3 separate regions of the Homo sapiens genome follow, and regions 1 and 3 are each linked to region 2. The links come from fine-mapping of genetic effects on gene expression. A gene starts in region 2. Each other region holds a variant in brackets. All regions are shown on one strand. Distances are from middle to middle.

Region 1 (5,432 bases), 690 kb before region 2:
TGTGGGTCAACTTTATTTGATTGAAGGATGCAAAGTATTGATCTTGAGCCTGTCTGTGAGGGTGTTGCCAAAGGAGATTAACATTTGAGTCAGTGGGTTGGGAAAGGCATACCCACCCTTAATCTGGGTGGACACAATCTAATCAGCCGCCAGCTCAGCTAGGATAAAAGCAGGCAGAAGAATGTGAAAAGACTAGACTGGCCTAGCTTCCCAGCCTACATCTTTCTTCCGTGCTGGATGCTTCCTGCCCTTGAACAACGGACTCCAAGTTCCTCAGCTTTGGGACTTGGACTGGCTTCTTTGCTCCTCAGCTTGCAGATGGCCTATTGTGGGATCTTGTGATCATGTGAGTTTAATTCTCCTTAATAAACTCCTTAATAAAAAAAAAAAAAAAATATATATATATATATATATATATATATATATATCCCATTACTTCTGTCCCTCTAGAGAACCCTGACTAATACAGTGATATTCAGTTAGGATTTTCAGAAAGTGCAGTGTTTTTTATGATGTATGATAAACCAGGATGAAAGCAATGACTTAGCTGTTGAAAAATAAGACTAACACAACCCTATTTTTTGTTTAATAAATTACATGTATTTTTTCCACTAGTATTATTCTACCTATTTTTCACACCCTATTTGATACAGATAGAAAGCGTATTATTCATTGAGCCTCAGTGTCTGTCATCTCTAATTATATAAAATCAGGTGGTATGTTTGCAGCCAACTCTACAAGCATTTTATTAATCCCCACATTCTTATAATTTCAACTCAAATTATAGATGAGTTCCCCTAAAAATGAATGTCTGGAGTTTAAATAGTGAAATAAAAACATGTGAGCAGTCAACAATCAAGCAATGGGCTTTTTCAGTGTATTAAATAAATATCTAACTCTCCTTAACCTGAAGGGGATTTTTTTGACCTACTGTCATTTTTTATAATGTTTTATACTTCTGTTATATTATAGTAGTACTGTTTATGTTCCTGTAGTTAAATCAGGGTCAGAGTTTCTATTAAAGTGATCTCATTTGATGGAGGTAGGCAAATGACAGTCTTCTAATATACCTATGACATCCGTTGGCTTAAAAAAATATAAGGTTAATATTTAAAAATGCTAGAATTTGATAAATTGGTTGATTATTCTCTTGATGCTTGAAATATTTCATTTAGCAACTATATTTAGAGATTTGTAATATAGCCATGAAATTTGTTCTGAATTACATCTTAAACACCATCTACTACATATAAATATATGTATCTTTTTCTTTTTTTCTGAGAAATGTCCTTAAATGTTTTATGCTATTAACTCAGCTCAATTAATTACTTTAATAACCTCCAAACCACTAGAATATTAAAAATACACATTTCTGAAAGAATGCAATACATTTTACATTGTAGGTAACTAAAACGGAATAAACATGGACTAATGAGATATATTTAAGCAACCATAAAGAGTCAGATATCTCAAAGCTTATGCTGTAACATCATTGGTCTTCCTATGCCCACAGTGTCTCCTTCCTTACAGAAATACTGAGAACAAGTGATTGTACTGAATTGTGTAGACATAGATCAGACTGCGGTGATCCATCCTACAAAACTTAAATTAAATTAAGAAAATAATTATTTACTGCCCTAAGTATATAGCACTGTATTGGGGATGAATGGGAATGCCAACATGAAAACAATACAAACTCTAACAACAAAAAGTCCACCATCTAATGTGTGGTGAAGGGGCTGCATGGAATGATAGTGATGACATAAATGCAGAAATAAAAAATAAAGACTAATTGTACTTAAAAAATGAGGAACATGGGATGCTGTAGATTTTCTGCAGAGATAGTTCATAAGTGTTTAGGAGAATTTACATAAATTCAAATATTTTATGTATCTGTTTCCCTGTTCCTTGGAACCTTGATTAGATTTAGCTCAAATATCTTACAAAATCTACCTTGTCTCTTAATTTATTTGTCAAATATTCTATTACTTATTTTAAGAGCCACAGATATCTATGTCTGTGTATCCACATCTAAATCTAAGTGTAGAATTGCTATATTTTGGATAATTTATTTATATATTCATTCCAGTTCATTAATTTTCTCTTCAACAGTGTCTAATCTACTATAAATCTATTCATTGAGTTTTTAAATTGCAAATATTATAGTTGTCATCTACAGAAGTTCTATTTGTCACTTGGTAATGAATTTTTCCCATTTTCCCATTTTAAATATCTAACATAATTTCTTTAAAATGTCAAATACTAGATAATTTGCAAACTGTGTCTAATAGTTAAATATCTGAAACTTCACAAATCAATGTTAGCTCTATGTGATATTTCTTCTGCTCTCTCTATGATGCCTTTTTCCTTAACTGTTTTGTGGGTTCTTAGCTGTAACCTGCTCATTTTTCTTGACACATTATCTATAAGAATTCTTAGAAGACTGGAATAAAGGGGAATCTTCCAGAGTGATATATATTTGCCTCTTCCAGTAACCTGGGTTGTATTCACAGACTGAGACTCCTTTAAGCTTATTCTTAAATTACCCAAGTAGTAAGAATGTGGCTGAGTTTCTGCATGAATCTTAGCTTGTAATTACAAATTATCAGGGCATTTTTTTTTCTTAGTTTCAACCCCAAAGTAAAATATATAAGAAAAAATCATGTAACA[A/C]ATATCAGAACTCCTAATTACATTTATTTTTCTTTTCTAATTTCTATTCTGATATTATTTATATGTCTTAGATCTGAAACTTTCTGTATATTGGCATGTTACTAAGAAAATCAAAGTTTATTACATATAAGAATTAAATGGGGGGGTGGGGTGGAGCCAAGATGGCCAAATAAGAACAGCTCCAGTCTACAGCTCCCAGCATGAGCGAGGCAGAAGATGGGTGATTTCTGCATTTCCAACTGAGGTACTGGGCTCATCTTACTGGGGAGTGTCAGGAACGGGGTGCAGGACTGAGCCAAAGCAGGGCAAGGCATCACCTCACCTGGGAAGCACAAGGGGTCAGGGAATTGCCTTTCCTAGTCAAAGAAAGGGGTGACAGATGGCACCTGGAAAATCGGGTCACTCCCACCCATTACTGCGCTTTTCCAACGGTCTTAGCAAACGGCACACCAGGAGATTATATCCCGTGCCTGGCTCAGAGGGTCCTATGCCCACGGAGCCTCGCTCATCGCTAGCACAGCAGTCTGAGATCAAACTGCAAGGTGGCAGCAAGGCTGTGGGAGGGGCGCCTGCCATTGCTGAGGCTTGAGTAAGTAAACAAAGCTGCTGGGAAGCTCTAACTGGGTGGAGCCCACTGCAGCTCAAGGAGGCCTGCCAGCCTCTGTAGACTCCACCTCTGGGGGTAGGGAATAGCCAAACAAAAGGCAGCAGAATCCTCTGCAGACTTAAATGTCCCTGTCTGACAGCTTTGAAGAGAGTAGTGGTTCTCCCAGCACACAGCTGGAGAACTGAGAATGGACAGACTGCCTCTTGAAGTGGGTCCCTGACCCCCAAGTAGCCTAACTGGGAGGCAGCCCCAGTAGGGGCAGACTGACACCTCACATGGCCGGGTAATCCTCTGAGACAAAAATTCCAGAGGAACGATCAGGCAGCAACATTTGCTGCTCTCCAATATCCGCTGTTCTGCAGCCTCTGCTGCTGATACCCAGGCAAACAGGGTCTGGAGTGGACCTCCAGCAAACTCCAACAGACCTGCAGCTAAGGGTCCTGACTATTAGAAGGAAAACTAACAAATAGAAAGGACATCCACACCAAAACCCCATCTGCACATCACCATCTTCAAAGACCAAAGGTAGATAAAACCACAAAGATGGGGGAAAAACAGAACAGAAAAACTGGAAACTCTAAAAATCAGAGTGCCTCTCCTCCTCCAAAGGAACGCAGCTCCTCACCAGCAATGGAACAAAGCTGGATGGAGAATGACTTTGACGAGTTGAGAGAAGAAGGCTTCAGACGATCAAACTACTCTGAGCTAAAGGAGGAAGTTCAAACCCATGGCAAAGAAGTTAAAAACCTTGAAAAGAAATTAGAGGAATAGCTAACTAGAAGAACCAATGCAGAGAAGTCCTTAAAGGACCTGATGGAGCTGAAAACCAAGGCACGAGAACTACGAGATGAATGCACAAGCCTCAGTAGACGATTCGATCAACTGGAAGAAAGGGTATCAGTGACGGAAGCTCAAATGAATGAAATGAAGTGAGAAGAGAAGTTTAGAGGATAAAGAATAAAAATAAACGAACAAAGCCTCCAAGAAATATGGGGCTATCCAAGAAAAGACCAAATCTACGTCGATTGGTGTACCTGAAAGTGATGGGGAGAATGGAACCAAGTTGGAAAACACTCTGCAGGATATTATCCAGGAGAACTTCCCCACCAATCTAGCAAGGCAGGCCAACATTCAAATTCAGGAAATACAGAGACCGCCACAAAGATACTCCTTGAGGAGAGCAACTCCAAGACACATAATTGTCAGATTCACCAAAGTTGAAATGAAGGAAAAAATATAAAGGGCAGCCAGGGAGAAAGGTCAGGTTACCCACAAAGGGAAGCCCATCAGACTAACAGCTGATCTCTCGGCAGAAACTCTACAAGCCAGAAGAGAGTAGGGGCCAATATTCAACATTCTTAAAGAAAATAATTTTCAACCCAGAATTTCATATCCAGCCAAACTAAGCTTCATAAGTGAAGGAGAAATAAAATACTTTACTGACAAGCAAATGCTGAGAGATTTTGTCACCACCAGGCCTGCCCTAAAAGAGCTCCTGAAGGAAGCACTAAACATGGAAAGGAACAACCAGTACCAGCCACTGCAAAACAAGCCAAATTGTAAAGACCGTCAAGGCTAGGAAGAAACTGCATCAACTAACGAGCAAAATAGCCAGCTAACATCATAATGACAGGATCAAATTCACACATAACAATATTAACCTTAAATGTAAATGGGCTAAGTGCTCCAATTAAAAGACACAGACTGGCAAATTGGATAAAGAGTCAAGCCCCATCAGTGTGCTGTATTCAGGAAACCCATCTAACATGCAGAGACACACATAGGCTCAAAATAAAGGGATGGAGGAAGATCTACCAAGCAAATGGAAAACAAAAAAAGGCAGGGGTTGCAATCCTAGTCTCTGATAAAACAGACTGTAAACCAACAAAGATCAAAAGAGACAAAGAAGGCCATTACATAATGGTAAAGGGATCCATTCAACAAGAAGAGCTAAGTATCCTAAATATATATGCACCCAACACAGGAGCACCCAGATTCATAAAGCAAGTCCTTAGAGACCTACAAAGAGACTTAGACTCCCACACAATAATAATGGGAGACTTTAACACCCCACTGTCAACATTAGACAGATCAATGAGACAGAAAGTTAACAAGGATATCCAGGAATTGAACTCAGCTCTGCACCAAGTGGACC
Region 2 (5,350 bases):
CCAGCCAAGGCTGGACTCGTGCCCAAGCCTGTTCCTGGGGTGCAGCGGTGGCCATTGCCACCCCGAGACAAAATGTAGTGACCGTTGGGGGCGGTCAGGGTGGAGGGCCCCTTGCCACCCATGCAGATATAGTTGCTTAGCTCCTCCTCACCGCGGGCTGGTGGGGTGTGGCCCAGGGAATCCGGAGTGACACTGCGGAAGGAACTCCGGAAATCGCAGGGACTGGAGCCATACTCATCCGAGGAGATGAAACCGCCATCGCTGGGGGAACCAGACACCGAAGCACTAGATCGCCGTGGGAAGAGACAATCCGAGGTGGAGCCATGGCCACTGGTGCTACTGGACGACAGACTGACCGGGCTGGTGGCCGAAGGCGAGCAGCGGGAAGCCGGCATGGGGATGGAGCGGCTGTGGTTGAGCGGGGGGTGCAGCCGGGCGCTGCCCCGATGCCGGTGGGCGTGGGTTCTGTTGGTGCTGGGACTCACAGGGCTGCCGTCCACCGAGGCTGGGCGGGACATGGTGCCTTCGCCGTCACTGGAGGCGCGGACACGGAAGGAGCCTGGCTTCCCGCCCACCATGCTGGCCGGGGAGGTGGCGGTGATGCTCTCAGTGCGTGATCGGCGGGTCAGCCCCACCTGGCTGGGCGGGGGATTGTTGAGATGGTGCCGGCGCAGGGGGACGCTGATGGGGTTAGAGCAGTTGGACGAGGACTGGCTCTTGCTGCGAGGGCGGAACTCATCACTCATGGCCCGCATGGCCTCCAGGATGGTCTCGTGCATGTTCTGGGCCACCACAGAGTCATCCACCTGCATCCAGAACTCCCCGGGCCCCGTCACGGCAGAACGGCCCACCTCGATGAAGAAGAAGTTTTCCGAGTGGCCACAGCGCCTGATGTTCATCAGCTGCAGCACCACGGCCGCTGCCTCCGAGTTCAGCTTCACGAAGCTGATGGTCTTGCTGGTCAGGCAAAGGCGGTAGATACCAATCAGGTTCTTTGTCTGACCCAGGCCCTTGGGCTTCAGGATCACTTGCCAGACCTCTTTGAATGCGGGTCCTGGGGGCACGTCACCGTAGCTCAAGTCCTCCCCAGCCTCACCAAGGCCGGAGCTGCCGCTGCAGCTGCCCCCACCACCTCCCGCCCCGAGGGCCGCAGCTCCGTCGTGGTGGCCCTTAGCACGGTTGTGCAGCTGTAGGAGAGCCTGGTACCAGCTGTCTTGCTCGGCCTCGCTGTCCGCCGCGATGGCAAAGTGCTCGTCCCGGGTGTAGAGAGCCACCAGGTGCTTGTTCTTGGAGTCAGCCCGCTTGTTGATGTTGAAGCAGCTCTCAAGGGGGATCGAGCGTTTGGGGGCGCTCGACTTGTGCCGCCACTTCTTCTCGTTCTCGTAGTACTCGAGGCGCGCCGGGCCCCCAGCCTCGCTGGCCGCGCGCAGTACGAAGAAGCGTTTGTGCATGCTCTTGGGTTTGCGCAGGTAGCCCACCTTGCGCACGTCCGAGAAGCCATCGCTCTCCGGAGGGCTCGCCATGCTGCCACCGCCACCACCAACGCTGAGCAGAGGGAGGCTCCGAAAAACAACCGGGTGGGGGGCGGAGGCTCCTCGCCGCGGCCCGGCACATGCAAACAGGGCTGGAGGCAGCAGAAACCCCGACTCTGAAATCCACGCCGCCCCCCGCGCCGGGGAGGGGCAGCTGAAGGAGGACGCAGCTGCTGAGCCCAGGAGAGAGCCCGACCGGAGTTTTCGGGCGCTTCACGCCCGGCGGGGAGGCAGTGCGTCCGGGGTGAGGGCAGCCCCGATCCTCCGAGAGCCAAGTCTCCTCTCAGCCGCCGCCGCCACCAGGAAGGAGCGAAGATGCATCTCTCGTCGCCCCGGCTGGAGTCCGGCACAGGGAGGCGACAGTCGGGGGTCCCTGCGGTGCCCCTCCAGGAGCGCGCGCGCGCGCGCGCCTTCCCTCCTGAGTTCCCCTCTGGAAGCAGCGATTCCCGAGGCAAATTAAATATCCTTGGGCAGGGGGAGGCGGGTTGCCAAGTCCCAACGTTGCACGGGGTTCTCCCTCCTCCTTCGCCTCCTCCCACCCCCCAACCGTCCCAGCCGCCACCAGCCGCCCAAATACCAGCTCAGTCGCAGAGACCGCGGCGCTGCGGCTGTTGCTGTTGCTGCTGCTGCTGCTGCTGCTGCTGCCGCCGCCCGCGGGCGCGTCCTCTGCAGCCCCCATCCGGGCCCATCTCGGCGGGTGGAGAAAGTGGCTTTTCCATGCGAAACGATACCGGGCAGCCACTGCAGCTGGGGACCGGCCGGAGGGACAGACTCATCCCTGCCCCTCGCTCCAGGCGGCTGGGGAGGAGGGGAGGGGACAAGGGCGAGAGGGGATGGGGGAGGTTTGGGAAGGGTTCGGGGAAGACGCCTGTTCCTCGGGAGGCGCTGCCGCTGCAGTTACTTCTCCCCTCCTCCCTCCTCCTCCTCCTCCTCGGAGAGTTGCCGAGAGCCCCAACCAAAACAAGCGGCGGCGTCTGGCTCTGCGCGCCGGCCCCCTCCGACCGCGCCGCCGTCTCACTCGGAGGAGAAAAACACGTGACGGAGCCTCCGCGCTCGGCAGCCGGGCAGCCGCCGCCGGGAGGCTCCCGCCCGGGTCTCTACATTCCGGGCCGAGCCCGCCCCGCGCCCGCCCCTCTCCGCCCCCCAGCCGTGCTGCAGCGGCGCCCGCGCCGACCCCGGCGCAGCGCTAGGACAGCGCCCCTGCGCGGCCGCCAGCTCCGGCGCAGCGCCTCCCTACACGCGCGCCAACCGGGGCGCCCCCGGCCCGCAGGAATCCCCGCGGCGGGCGCAGGCGGGGGTGTTTGGGTGGCTACCCGAAAGCACGAGGGGAGTCTGGGAAAACGGGAGGGGGCGAGCTCGGGAAGACGCAGGAGTGAGGGTGGGGGGCCACGGGGGGGCACTGCGGCTACAGAGCCCCGAGTGGGAGGCCGGGGGGAGGCGGGGGCGCCGGAGCTGGGCTGCCTCTTACCTATCAGGTAAGACTGACCCACGGGAGGGAGGTTTCTAGTCAAGGCTGTTTCCCCCAGGAAATTTAAAAGCTAGATTTCGGCTTCAGGGCGATAGGCCATGGTGAGGGGATCTGTATTTTTTAAGGTTTTTCTAAAGGACTTCTGGGCCAGCCTTCCACCTTGGGATCCCCAGATTTGCTGCCGTGAGGTACCTGGAAGGAACAGAGGGACGCCCAAGGGCAGTGACTGGGGGCAGTTATGGTCACTACAAAAGGAGAACAGGGATCCCCAGGAAGTGTCTCACGTCCGGCGCTGTGGAATTAGTTGCTGATCAAGTAGGGAGAAAATGTAAATATCACCTTTTCTCCTGCTCCCCTTGCCCATCCGTGTGACGGGGGGACTCACACCTAAGGCTGAGGGCATGGGGGAGGGGAAATGAGAGGTCCCTTATCATATTCCGAAGTCTATCCGTGACTTTAAAAAGCTGTTAGGGACCTTCAGAGGGTTCATAAGGCCAAAACCCTACTGTGCAAATATTGGCTGAAATGTTTGTTTCACACACAGCTCCCACACCCATTGAACCACCCTATAAGTTTTTAACCTTGACCACAAGGATAACAGGGAGAAAACAAGGATGGTGCCAGCTCAACTGTACAGGAAAATGGTTACTTCATGAGTGGACCAGATCAGCAGCCTGGGTCTACTTGAAGCGCCCCTTTCAGGGTCACCTTGCGGTATCAGTCTCCCCACAAACAAACGCTCCCCAGAGTTTTTTTATTTTTTAAGCCGACCTATAAACAAGCAGTTTGTCCCTGCTTGCTCGCCTGGCACTAAGGACCCACAGAGATGTCACTCGGTTTAATGCTGTCTCATTTTGATGCCTGGCCCGTTTGGGGTTGCCGCCCCTTTACTACGCCGGGACCCTCCTCGGCCTCAGGCTCCCAGGCACTGCAGGATGCTGGCTGGGCACTCAGCAGTCGAGGCGCTGGGCATGCTCAGTGGCTGGGACCCGGCGGGCCGCGGGGGAGCGCGCCTCGGCCCAATGCGGCTGAGGGGCGGAGCGAGTTTCCCGGGGAGGCCTGCTGATTGGTGGGATGGCCTGTTTTTCAAGCCTTGCACTGCAGAGGGAAGGTGGGGGTAGAAGGGTTGAGGGTACCAAGGTAGGTTGCAAAGCGTAGTAAAAAAAGAAAAAGAAGATGATGATGATGAAGGAGAAAAAGAACCATAGGCGCCATTCAGGGGTGTGCGATACGTAAATTAGGGGGATTGGGCATCTGCAGAGGGGCTCCTCCCCACCCAAGCCTGGGAGCCTCTCGTTTCTCCTCTCCCCTTCCTGTTCCCGGTCGTCATGCAGCCTCATCTAAACCTGGTTAATCTATAATTTGAGTACACATGTTGAATTGAAAGCCCTCCCTTCTTTTCCTCTGACAGCTTGGTGATGTGGGCACACGTGCCCACTACAGCAAGGCTATTAATAGCAGATATTTGGAAATGGAAGCGAGGCGGCACTCACAGTGACCGAAATTCTGGGGGTATAGAGTGCCTTACAGGGGGTAGGGCAGGGAGGTGCAGAATAAAGAAGCCTGAAGTTGGTGGAAAAGTGTAACTGTGTGCCTGGTTTTACCCTAGACAAGAAAAAAGAGAGATTATAAAAGGGTTGTTTACTAGTAACAATGTAATCCAGATAAGGCCAAAGGGCTTTTCACAGGTTTGATGTTTAGCGCTGGGATGGGGGTAGTGGAGTAATTAACATTTTGTAAGACAACAAATCAAATCCATGGACATTTACTTTTCAAATGGCCCTGTCCCTACCTCCGTCCCTCCACCCCCCACCCCCCAAAAAAAGCTAAATAAAGGTACTGTACCTCTATGGGGGAAAAATACTCTTTTCTGGAAGGAGGGGAGGGTTGGAAAATTTATTTGCACGTACCTCACAATTATCTTCATAGGAAGGATTTTGATCATAAAAAGCTAATTATGATAATAAACCTTTTAAAAAATATATCTCTCAGTGTTAAAGCATTTCTGCTTTAAAAAACACAATTTCAGTTGCTAAATATTCGATAAAAATTATGAAATAAGCCTCACTGCTGTGACAAATTATGTTCAGACCAATGGGTTTCCTATGGAAGATAATCACTGATCATAGGATATTAGTGCCATTTTTTCTACTTGCTGATGTTTTACTACCAATTTAAAGGTGGTTAATATTTGTTATAATTATACTACAGTAAATTCAATTGTTCTCTACAATTGTTTTATTAATGGGCTAACTGGAAATTCATTTACATTTGGTTCATGTAATATATAGAATAGAAAGAGACGCGTTTGTGGGAACTCACTGAAGTAATGCTGAGCAGGTATGGGTAT
Region 3 (5,432 bases), 140 kb before region 2:
GGTGGGCTTACAGCCCAAACCAGTCATTCTCAACTCCAAAGGACATTTGTGGCAGTCACAGCTGGGGGAAAACTACTTGCATCTAGTGGGTAGAGGCCAGGAATGCTGCAAAATGTCGTCTAATACACAGCCTGGTTCCCAACAACAGAATTTTCCAGTCCCAAATGCCAATAGTAGCATTGCAGCTGAGAAACCCTGCTCCAAATGACCAGTTCACTTCCTGTCTCTAACCCTGTTCATTATTGCTTCATCCTCTCTGGCCTCCTTTCAGGTCACAGAGCATGCCAATTCCTTCCCTCCTTGGGGCCTCTGCAATCATCATTCTCACTGCTTGAAACACTCTGCTCCTTGCAGGGTTGGCTCTTTGTCATCTCTCAAGTTTCACCAAGAAATCCCACCCCCACATGCCCCTAATCCCTGTCAGTTTCATTAACCTGATTATGTCTTCATCACCAGCTGACATTTGCTTGCTTTACCTTGTACATCTGGATCTTGTTCCCCTCAAATATAAGCAGGATGAGTACCTATCACTAGGCTCCAAGGACAAGTGCCAGCCCTGGAACATAGTAGGTGCTCAACAAATAATTAGGGAAGGAAAGGAATTAAGGGAGGAAAGAATGCCTTAGACTTTTTTTTTTTTTTTTTGAGACAGCGTCTCTCTCTGTCACCAGGCTGGAGTGCAGTGGCACGATCTCGGATCACTGCAACCTCCGCCTCCCCGGTTCAGGCGATTCTCCTGCCTCAGCCTCCCGAGTAGCTGGGACTACAGGTGCATGCCACCACGCCCGGCTAATTTTTGTATTTTTAGTAGAGACGGGGTTTCACCATGTTGGCCAGATGGTCTCGATATCTTGACCTCGTGATCCACCTGCCTCAGCCTCCCAAAGTGCTGGGATTACAGGCGTGAGCCACCACGCTCGGCCAGACATTTTTAATGAATGTCACTCTCCCCATGTGTTTCGTTTCCAAACACACACACACACACACACACACACACACACACACACCCCACCAGCTCAAATACGTGTTTATAGGATCCGTTTCCAAAAAGTCACCAAGAGAGTAGTTCCTGTACACTAACCCTGCCCCCAGAATGCTGAGTTGTTTTCTATTGAACTTAGAACACGAACCCAGCCTTTTTCTCAACGACATCCTTCTCCCAAGACACAATGTGGCCCCTCATGCCAACGTGTGTGAACTCTACTCCCCACCCCTTAATCTTCCTAACATGCAGAGATCCCTTAGATTTAAAGTGCAACCCCTGCTATGAATCAATAACTTTAGAAGGACTTACCACAGAAAGAGATTAGCATGAGAAAGCTAAGCAGATATCATCGCAACAGTTCACTTTAAAAATACCACCACTCCTTCTATCTGTGACTACAGATGCCTCCTCACAGAAGTGGGGCAGAGATCATCTAGCCAGAACCAACTAGCAGGTCATCTGCGCCTCCCCCGTCCACGCCAATTCCATTCCCCGCTCTCTCCTCATGTGCTAAGTTCTCCCACGTTCTTACGGTGTCAGCGAAGAATTTATACATGCCTCTAAAGTGACTCACTGCATGAGTATTACTGTTTATTTTTAGCACCTTGTTGTTTTGCCTATAAATCCCTCTAAATGTCATTTCTCACTGCCTGGCCCCTTTCAGGACAATATGGCATGCTCCTCGAAATGTCCTCTCACTGGGTCCCTCTGTTCTCAGTTCTGCCCACAAGGCCACTGCACATGGCTGCCCACGATGGAACTGACCTGCCTCTGCCATCTCTAAATCTGGAATAAATCCCCTTCCTGAGTAAATATCCATCCATCAAGTGTGCAGGATAACTATTTCCTCCAGAACACCCACTGTTCAGGAAGACAGATGGAGATCTCTGAGATGGGGCCACCACGGAAACCATCCACAAGGGAAACAGCTCTGACCCTGGACTCCCTTGCTGCCTCCATTCAAAGCACCCTGTCTGAGAATTAAGTTGTGATGAGAGATCATCTGCCTTGCAGGTGCAGAGGCAGCAGAAGAGCCACCTGTGTTTTTCCTCTGCCTGGCACGTGGGTGATTGCAATACTCTGGATGTGCACCTTCCACAGCCGTCGCTTGGATTCACTGGCCTAGTAGAAGACAGTGCCGAGAATGGGTGGCAAAGACCCATGTTTCCCATGACACTTGTGAAAATGAGGGGCAGAAAGATCCTCTGAAGTACCACTCAGTCTACCCAGAAAAGAGTAGAATCTGTCCAGTTTAATTTTTGATCATTTTATGACTAAATAATCTCAAAGTTTAAAAAGGCATGAAAGACCATCTAAACCAATTCTTTTATGGTACCAAGGAGGCAAGGCCCATATTGGGTGAGTACCAGGCCCAGGGCTGCACACATAGGTTATGGCACAGCTGAGTCTGGACTCCAATGCTGTCTTAGCTGATTTTCTGTTGCTATAACCAAATGACTGAGACTGGGTAATTTATAAAGAGAAAACACTTGTTTCTTATAGTTCTGGAGGCTGAGAAATCCAAGGTTGAGGGGCTGCATCTGGCGAGGGCTTTCTTGCTGGAGGGGACTCTGCAGGGAACCCAGGTGGTGCAGGGCATTACATAGCAAGGACTTCATGACAGACAACCAAACTGGCTTTTTTAACAGACCCACTGTTGTGATAACTAACCCACTCCCTCAATTGCCTATTAATCCATTAATCCAATAATGACTCCATCACCCCTCAGATGTCCCACCTCTCAACACTGCCGCATTGTGGATCACATAAACTTTTGCAGGACACATTCAAATCATAGCAGATGCCTTGCCTTCTAGGGTTGATCCTGTAACAACTGCCATGTCATCTTTTCTTTTTCCTCCTGTCCCTTCTTTCTTCATCTTATAAACCATCTATTCCCATTCCACATGTTTCTGCTGGGGGTTAAAAGTCCCTACCTTCCCCCAACTTCCTGGAAACTCTGATTAGTCCAGAGAGTAGTCAAGTGACCCAAATTGAAGTAATGAGATATTTTTTTGAAAATGGATACTGATATATGGATCATGAGAAGTGTATTAGCCAGGGCAAGCTAACTGCTGTAACAAACAACACCAAAATTGTAGTGGCTTAACACTGTAGAGGTCGGTTTTTGTTGGCTTGTTTACTCACTTAATGGCCCAATGTGGGTA[T/C]ATGCTGGTGGCCTTCCACCAAGTCTCCCTGTATCCCCTAAACCATGGAGTCCTCATTGAATCCCCTGCAGCTTCCTGGCAGCTGGGGGAAAGAGACCTGAGGTGAAGACTCCTGGGAGGGAGTGACACGCATCTCTTCTGCCCACCTCTCATTAATCAGAAACCATTGTATGCGCCCACCTAATTGCAAGGAAGGCCAGGAAAAATAGTCTAATTGTGTGCCCAGGAGCAAAAGGAAAGAGTAGGACAAATGACCCAGAGGGAGTTGCCAGGATCCATATTTCCTGCCATGTGGAAAAAGAGCCGCTGGTAGATGAAAACAAAACATAGCAAAGCAAAGATTAAAAATAAATAAATAAATAAATAAATAAATAAAAGATGTGAGAAACGTTATCTGATCCCCTGGATAGGCCATATCTGATGTTGGACCAATTCCTGCACCTATCTCTCAAAGAAAGCATTCTTATGTTTATCAAAACATATTCAGCAGGATAATAATTCAACTGGGACGGCAGATTAGAAATTTTAAAACTTAAATAGTTGTCTGGATTGGCCTACACTTGTGTACAACTTATGCATCCTCTTGGGCCCACCTCTTCCTCCAGCCACTTCTTTCAGAGTCCAGTTCTGCCAGGCTTTGACCAGGCTCTCCCAGGTGCCAGCTGGCAATGCCTCACTTTGGCCCAATGCCTAGAGCCTCTCTCTTCCTGCCTTGGGTTTCTCTGACCCTGCCGCCCAGTTCTTCCATGGGAACTGCCCAGCCATCATGGAGGGGCCACCCAGAGGTACAGGGAGCCAATACACATGGGAATCACCCTTGACCAAGGTGGTTCAGGAGCCAATGGGTAAATGCTCCCCTTTTGCCTCCTACGGGGACAATTCCAAGAGACAGTTGATGGGGCCCTAGTCAGAGGCTCAAATGATAGTTCCCAAGATTCCAGTCCCTCTTTCTGAACTTTTTGCCCTGCTTTCCCAGGTTTTATTTTTATTTGGCAGAAAGCCCCACAGTGTTGAGCACCAGGTGCCCTTCATGGTGGCCGACTCAGTGACACATTCTTGTGTTGACCTCTTTTCCTTCCCTTTCTCACTCTGCTTTGCTTCTTGCCCTGCCCTCTGCATTTACACTTGCTAATAAATTTTACACTCACAATGTTTGGAAGTCTCTGCTTTTGAGGGACCCAGGCAGCTCTATCGCAAGAGAGAAATTTTAATATGATGATATGTGCTGTGATTCTCCTAGAAGAAGTAGTATGCAAAACTTCCCAAAAGTGTCTGACTGGGCCACTCCTTTTTGTTCTTCCCAGAACCTACAGAACTAAAATAAACTGCCCCTCTATTGATTTTGCTTCTTGATTGTAGGGTGTCTGATTCTCTAACTTTTTAGCATCTCCAACCAGTTCACAGCATTGAGGGAGCAGACATTGACCCATTGATAACCCCAATCTACCACACAACAACCGGCACAAAGTTAGACACACAGTAAATACTCAATAAACACTTGCAATTAGGTCAATAGGAGGCTCACTGGTTGAATAGCACTCAAATTTGAGCTATTTTCAATGATCCTTTAAATCAAAATGTTTTCCATTTTTATTTTACTTCATTAGAACAAAGTAAAATATGATCCTTTCAGTCTCTGTAACAGCACACTGATTTTTTCTCTTCTTCCTTTGCTCTCCTTTCTTCTCCCCTTTTCTTCTTTCTCTCTCATTTCCTTTTTTCCCCTCATTTTCTTTCTTCCTTGCTTTGCATCTCTTCCACCATTCTTTATTTTCTGTTTTTTGTTGTTGTTTAAAATTCAGAGGAAAAGACTCCAGGGACAGTGAGTCAGTAAATGAAAATTGTATCGACTCCCATGGTAGAGAAAGTTGTAAACCACTGAGAATTCCAAAATAGAAGTATTTCTTGTGGGAAAATCATCACCATGTCTTCCACTCCCATCGATTATGATGTTAATTTGTCTGTATCATTCTTCAGTGTTTATAATTATCTTAGGCAAAGTATGTTTTAAAGAGTGTCTTTCCTATCTCCCAACTCCCACCTCCCACAAACTGCATTTTATTGGTGGTGCTTGCACAACCCAACGACTGAAACCTCAGTGAGAAAGTAATAAAGTGCTTAGAAGTAATAATTGATGGTCAGCCCATCTTACATTTGGGGGTGTAGTTAAAGGCAGAGTCCTTGTAAGCTCTCCTAATCCCATTTATTAATGGTTAGCAAATTGTGATTATCAATCAAAATCAAAATGTGTGTGCTGTCTCCTTGACCTTTGGGTGGTA

Which allele goes with the higher level. Alleles are on the strand shown, and positions count from the first base shown. SD is a standard deviation of normalised expression in the study named. Not every link is listed here.
For the expression in thyroid of the gene that starts at base 2,605 in region 2, allele T in region 3 goes with a lower level than allele C (small effect, 0.16 SD a copy in GTEx).

What was found. PIP is the estimated chance that this variant, and not a neighbour inherited with it, causes the effect.
Region 1: its variant is the best candidate, but not a certain one, in a credible set for the expression of IRS1 in whole blood (INTERVAL, PIP 0.75).
Region 3: its variant is the best candidate, but not a certain one, in a credible set for the expression of IRS1 in thyroid (GTEx, PIP 0.73).

What each region holds. Positions count from the first base shown.
Region 1 is chr2:226,104,460-226,109,891 of GRCh38, forward strand. No RefSeq gene overlaps it. Among named protein-coding and RNA genes, the nearest start is that of MIR5702, 550 kb to the right of the region's middle. The variant A/C (reference allele first, on the strand shown) is at 2,671.
Region 2 is chr2:226,797,216-226,802,565 of GRCh38, forward strand. It overlaps IRS1 (insulin receptor substrate 1), which reads right to left and starts at 2,605. Exons shown (of 2, transcript NM_005544.3): 1 at 1-2,605. The coding sequence starts at 1,523. It also overlaps a transcript of RHBDD1 not described here. RefSeq lists an enhancer at 1-693 and silencers at 1,424-1,473, 2,464-2,883, 2,904-2,973, 3,934-4,143.
Region 3 is chr2:226,660,505-226,665,936 of GRCh38, forward strand. No RefSeq gene overlaps it. Among named protein-coding and RNA genes, the nearest start is that of MIR5702, 4.4 kb to the left of the region's middle. The variant T/C (reference allele first, on the strand shown) is at 3,154.